Regions from separate parts of the Homo sapiens genome. Here region 2 is linked to region 1. A link means that fine-mapping ties the variant in region 1 to the expression of a gene that starts in the linked region. Tissue or cell type: fibroblasts. Region 1 holds a variant in brackets; the other region holds the start of a gene. All regions are shown on one strand. Distances are between the middles of the regions.

Evidence for each region. PIP is the estimated chance that this variant, and not a neighbour inherited with it, causes the effect.
Region 2: it holds the start of PEX5, and the variant in region 1 is fine-mapped to the expression of PEX5 in fibroblasts (GENCORD, PIP 0.95).

What each region holds. Positions count from the first base shown.
Region 1 is chr12:7,217,753-7,220,514 of GRCh38, reverse strand. It overlaps a transcript of PEX5 not described here. Among named protein-coding and RNA genes, the nearest start is that of PEX5, 29 kb to the right of the region's middle. The variant AAGAT/T (reference allele first, on the strand shown) is at 1,624.
Region 2 is chr12:7,188,084-7,190,845 of GRCh38, reverse strand. It overlaps PEX5 (peroxisomal biogenesis factor 5), which reads right to left and starts at 1,160. Exons shown (of 16, transcript NM_001351132.2): 1 at 1,096-1,160; 2 at 322-484. The coding sequence starts at 468. RefSeq lists enhancers at 334-413, 1-586, 444-593, 587-1,303, 1,304-1,363 and 2 more and silencers at 784-1,193, 2,214-2,263.

The DNA.
Region 1 (2,762 bases):
GCCACTACCCGTGAATCAGCTTAGATCCATAACTTCTGGCCTTTCTCCTTCCAGGTAAAATGGACAGCTAAGTGCACTGCTCAAAGTTCTGACCATTAAGAAGATATTTCTTCCTAACTGCCTTTCAGGATCACCCTTGGGGAATTCTATAATGCCGTGGTCATCCACTTTTAGGAGGTACCAGCATATCATCAGAACCATCTGTAAATCAGACCTGAATTTTTTTCCTAGTCAATTTGTCATAGGAAGTTCCCCACGGAGCCTAGGTGGGGATTAAAGGAGAGGTGGCAATGCATCAAGATTAGATGCCACTGAAGATGTTAAAATATAGAAAGGAATGCGTTTCAGTGAGTAATAGCTAACATTTTTTAAACTTATATGGCAGGAACTATTCCTTATGATGATATGTAATAATTATTCTAATCTTACCAATAACCCTGGGAGGTAGGGTTTTTCTTAACATTCCTATTCTGCAAAGAGGAAAACCAAGTTAAGTCAGTCATCTAAGGTCACCCAAGTAGCAAATGTGGTACTGTGAAGGTGGGCAGTCAGACTCCTGAACCTATGCTCTTAACTCCAGACCTTGAGGCCTAGCAATCTTGGGTAGATGGAGGAGAAAGCAGAAAGAGAGATGGCAGCAAATCTCTTGGTTGCTACTAAGGTCCTTTGGCGCCATCTGCTGTTTAGTGCCAGAGTTGGCAATTCCAAATAGTTTGGACTCCTATGATTGATGCTTTTTTCTTTCTCTTACCTGGAACACATATGCCTATCATGTTGTCTTCTTCCACTGTTAGGTCAGCTATTCAAACAAAAACATTGAGATTATAGATCTCATTTTAACTTCCTAAGTGAGCCCAAATACGGGCCAGAAGAGTGTTGGTGTCCATTTCTGTTTGAATGTTGAAGGCTGTCTGACTTTGTGCCTGCTTCTAGTATGGTCCAAACAATTGAAGATATTTTGGCTTTGAGAACACCATAAAGAAGAATGAGATCCTGTCATTTGCAACAACATGGTTGGAACTGGAGGTCATTATGTTAAGTGAAATTAACCAGGCAAAGAAAGATAAACGTCACATGTTCTCACTTATTTGTGGGAAGTAAAAATTAAAACAACTGAACTCACGGAGATAGAGTAGAAGGATGGTTACCAGAGGCTAGGAAGGGTAGTGGGGTGGGTGGGGGGGAGTGAGGATGGTTAATGGGTACAAAAGAATAATTATAAAGAATGAATAAGACCTAGTATTCTCTAACACAACATGGTGACTATAGTCAAAAATAATTAATTATACATTATAAATAACTAAAAGAATATCACTGGAGTGTCTGTAACACAAAGGATAAATGCTTGGGTAATGGATACCCTATTTACCCTGTGTTTATTACATATTGCATTCCTGTATCAAAATATCTCATGTAGCCCATAAATATATATACCTACTATGTACCTACAAAAATTAAAAAATTTTTTTCAAAAAAACACCAAAAAGTAAGAGAACTGCAAATATATAATAGTGGTAGTCATGGTAGGTTTTGCTGCCTAGTAGCGGCTGCCAGATATTGCTAATGGAGTCAGCACAATAATCTTTTTAAACTGATGAAGCCTTTGAAAATTGTGTCGTTAGA[AAGAT/T]TTTTTAAACCAAGTTAAGACAAGAAGTTTCCTTCTTTACGACGTGTTAGATTAAGCCATTCTGCAGGGATTGGGGGATAAGGGTTCCCAGATTGTTAGAAAACTTCAACTAGAGTAGAGTTTAGAGGAGAACAAAAGATATGACCCTGAGTGGCAGTTCTATCTCAAGACAAGGTCCCCATTGCCTTAGCAGATTAAATACGCAGTTTGCTAGAAGACAAGCTGTGTGAGTGTCTTAGCCTAAGGTTGTGAGTGGGTTGTTTTACCCTGATTCAACTATCTCTTTCCTTTTCTTTGAAACACAAGGCCGCCATTTAATATGTGTCAAAACTTTAATAATTTTCATCTATTGTTTGAACAAATGAGGATTTGTTTTCCTACATGAATTGTCCAAGATGGTAGGTAGAGAATCCAATATGAGTTCAGGATCCCAAGGAAACTCCAGCCCGTTCATTCAGAAGCAGTGTCTGCAGAGGCTGTATATTTCTAAAGAAAAACAAATGGGTAAATTGAATAAAACCCAGTCGTACAGTTTCCACTTGAGGAAACTTTGACCTAGAATAGTTTGCCCGTCTCTAGAATATTCTTATATTTAAAGACCAGAAAGTGTCTCAATTGCAATGAATTCCTACTTTAGTTGATATAAGAAAGACCATTAAGCATCTATATGAATCCTGGAAGGACTCTTAAAGGCTACTGGTGATAGGTCACTATCATAATAATCGTCAATAAATCATACCTCCCTGTATCCACATCTCTTTGCAGTGTGTCATTTCTTCTCTCTCCATCTCCCCATCAAGAGATGGAGTCTATTTCTTCACACCCTTGATTCAGGGTTGAACTTATAAGTAAAATAACGTCTAACTGATATTAGTTAGACTAACTAACTCCCCTCCCTGAAGTTGCCATCCCACTCTGCATGGAACTGAAACTGCACGTCTCTTGCTGACCACCACAAAGGGACAACAGCCAGGGACTGACTGTGAAGGGACTTAGGGTAAAGGCACAGTGCAGCCCGTACAACTCAGGGAGGGGAGGAATGTACAGGTGCACATGCAGGACACTCGCTATGCAGCAGGGCCTATAGTGTCCCTGTTGGCCCCCTAAGTCATTTCCAGCTTGGGTGTATGGGTGG
Region 2 (2,762 bases), 30 kb after region 1:
AAAATCAGGGGTTGATGAAGCCCATAGGCATCTGAGCCTCGGCTTCTTCATCTATAAAATGGTTGCATTTATTTAAAGGTGCACAGGGTTTTCTAGTGTTTATAAACGCTCAGTAAGTGGTAACTACTATGATTTGCAACACAATAGAGAAAGCAGTTATACCAAGATGTGCAAACAGCCCCTCCACCTCAGACCACCACCACCTGGGCTTTCCACCTCAAGAACACTCACTGCCTCAGAGGCTGCACCTGGGCTTTCCACCTCAAGAACACTCACTGCCTCAGAGGCTGCACCTGGGCTTTCCACCTCAAGAACACTCACTGCCTCAGAGGCCGGGGCTCCGGGGGGCCAGGGGCCAGGCCTCAATCCCTCCTGCCGAAGGGCCTTGTCCTGGGTGAAGTGCCCGGCGAGCTTCATGAGCGGGTTGGCACCCCCGCATTCGGCCTCCACCAGCTCCCGCATTGCCATGGTGACCGCCAGCTCTCTGATGGACACAGGAGGTTTGGAACTGAGGTACCCAAGCCAGACCCTTCTCACATCCACAACTCTGCCCGTATCTGAGGAAGGCACACAGGCGTCTGCCCCACACTGGCCGCCCTCCACCCCAGTGCTTTTGCTGCGACCCCCACCTCTGCCAGGAGTTCGAGGGAGGTCGGTACTCTCTCCTGCCGCCCCCCTCAAAGGCCACCGCTTCCAGCCTGCGCCTCTGCAGAGGCCTCCGCGACTACGGTCCCATGGGCTGGGGGCCAGCAGCTGCCTCCACAAAGGGGCCTGGACCCCGGGGGACCACGGGGACGCTTCAACAACCAGGCTGGACGGCGACACTGCCCGAAGAAGGGACAGTGGGAAAACAGCCCGACCATACCTAGCCCCGCGCAGCCCCAGCACGCGGTGAGCACGGCAGAGGAGCATTCCCTCCCCTTAAGTCACCGGAGCCCTTCCCCCGGCTCGGCCCGGTCCCTCCCGCGCTCCCCACCGCCCATCTCCCCGGCCCTGCTGCCGCTCCAGCCCCGCCCCTGGGACCCGCGAGGCCACCGCAAGGGTGGGGAGGGCCCAGGGACGCGGCCCCGGGCCCCCTCGGGGTCAGGCGCTCACCGCGGAGCGCCGCGCCGCACGACCCGCCGGGGCACCAGGTGCTGGCTTGGGGGAGGGGAGAAGAGGGGGCGGGGAGCCAGGGGGCGGGGCTCAGGCTTAAAGGGGCCGTGACCGCCCCGCAGCGGCCCAGGCCCAGCGGAAGCTGTCTGAAAAGGCGGGGCCTTAAGACTGCGACGCAGCCTGACGGGAAGAGCCGTGAGTCTTAAAGGGGAAGAGCACCTTAGAGAGCGGGTCTTGGAGAGTCGCCTTTAGGAGCGCTCGAAAAGGCCACGGGCCCTAGGATTTGTTTGACGGAAAGCTCAAAGAAGAGTGGAGCTAAGAAGGGCTTCCCAGGCTCTGGGGGAAAGCCGAAGACGCGAGATCCTAGGCTCAGTCGATCCTGCCTCTTCCCTTGGGCGCATTGTGACCTAAGGGGATTCAGTGCCCTTTCTGAGCCTCAGTTTTCCCCTCTAAAATGGGGCTGGCTAATGTTCCCAAGCCCAAGAAAGAGAAAAGCCCTAACACCAGGGGCTGGGGAGTCCAGTCCGAAGCCTTCTTCAGCCTCCTAGGCCTGCCCCGCTTCCAAATAACCCCTAGCGGGGTAGCGTCACTGTCTCCATGGAGACAGGGGCCCGCCCCCGCCTTAATCCCTCTCCACCTCTGCATAATGGGGAAAATAGCACTGCATGATGACAAATTCCGGAGACCAAAATAGGGTCCAACGCATCCTGAGACCTCGAGCTGGTAACGTACAGGGAAGGTGAACAGTGAGTCAGCCCTTCCTTCCGCTAAGTCAACATAGTGGCCTTATTCCCATCACTCCAGGCTGGGAAAGGACAAACATACAAGAAATGCTTTTAATCACGGAATAAGACTAAGCCTCAAGCCCCCTCATCTGCCAAAGAGTGTGCTCTGCTGTCAAACCTCAAAGTCATTGAGAAACAAACCCTGATAATCTCACCCAGCTTCAAGACCAAGGGAGTCCTAGTGTCATGGAGAAGAGCAAGGAGGGGCCCAGGGCTGCCGGTAAATGACCAAGGGCAATAATGCCAGACGAACAGAAGTACCATCCCAGCCCAGGGTGCATGAGCGGAGGCAGGCAGGCAGCAGGTGGCGCCATGGGCCGGGCTTGTTTCCTGGCTGTTCTGCAGATTTCAGAGGTGGAGGCCTCAGGGGGCCACAGGGAATGTCTGTGTAAACTCATCCCTGGGAAGACAGAGAAGCTGCTCTGACACCTCAGGGGAACAGAATGGCAGGGGACAGACCATAAGACTGTGCAACATTTCTCCTTTTCCTTGCCTTTTCGCCCTCTTTCAGAGGCCCCACTTCTACACCCCGTTTTCTTCCGGAGCACACAAATCCCAGCCCTTGGGCGTCCCCTGTTCTCAGGCTGCCATCGTGAGGAAAATACCTGATAAACTAAACCACACAAGGATGAAGAGATGCCCTCCAGAAGGTGCATACTTTTAAAAAGAGGACCCCCTAGAGAGAGCAATGTTTAAAGGAACCCATCTGATACAGTAGAATTTCAGAACCTCAAGGCAACCAGAGTTTCCCAGTACCACTTAAACATCACAACACACATAACCTTCTGCTCTGCTAGGAGTTTATCAACTGATTAGCCGTAACTCACTTTGTGTGCAGATCTTGGAAGAATGCTAATAATAATAACTGATGTTTACTAAAAT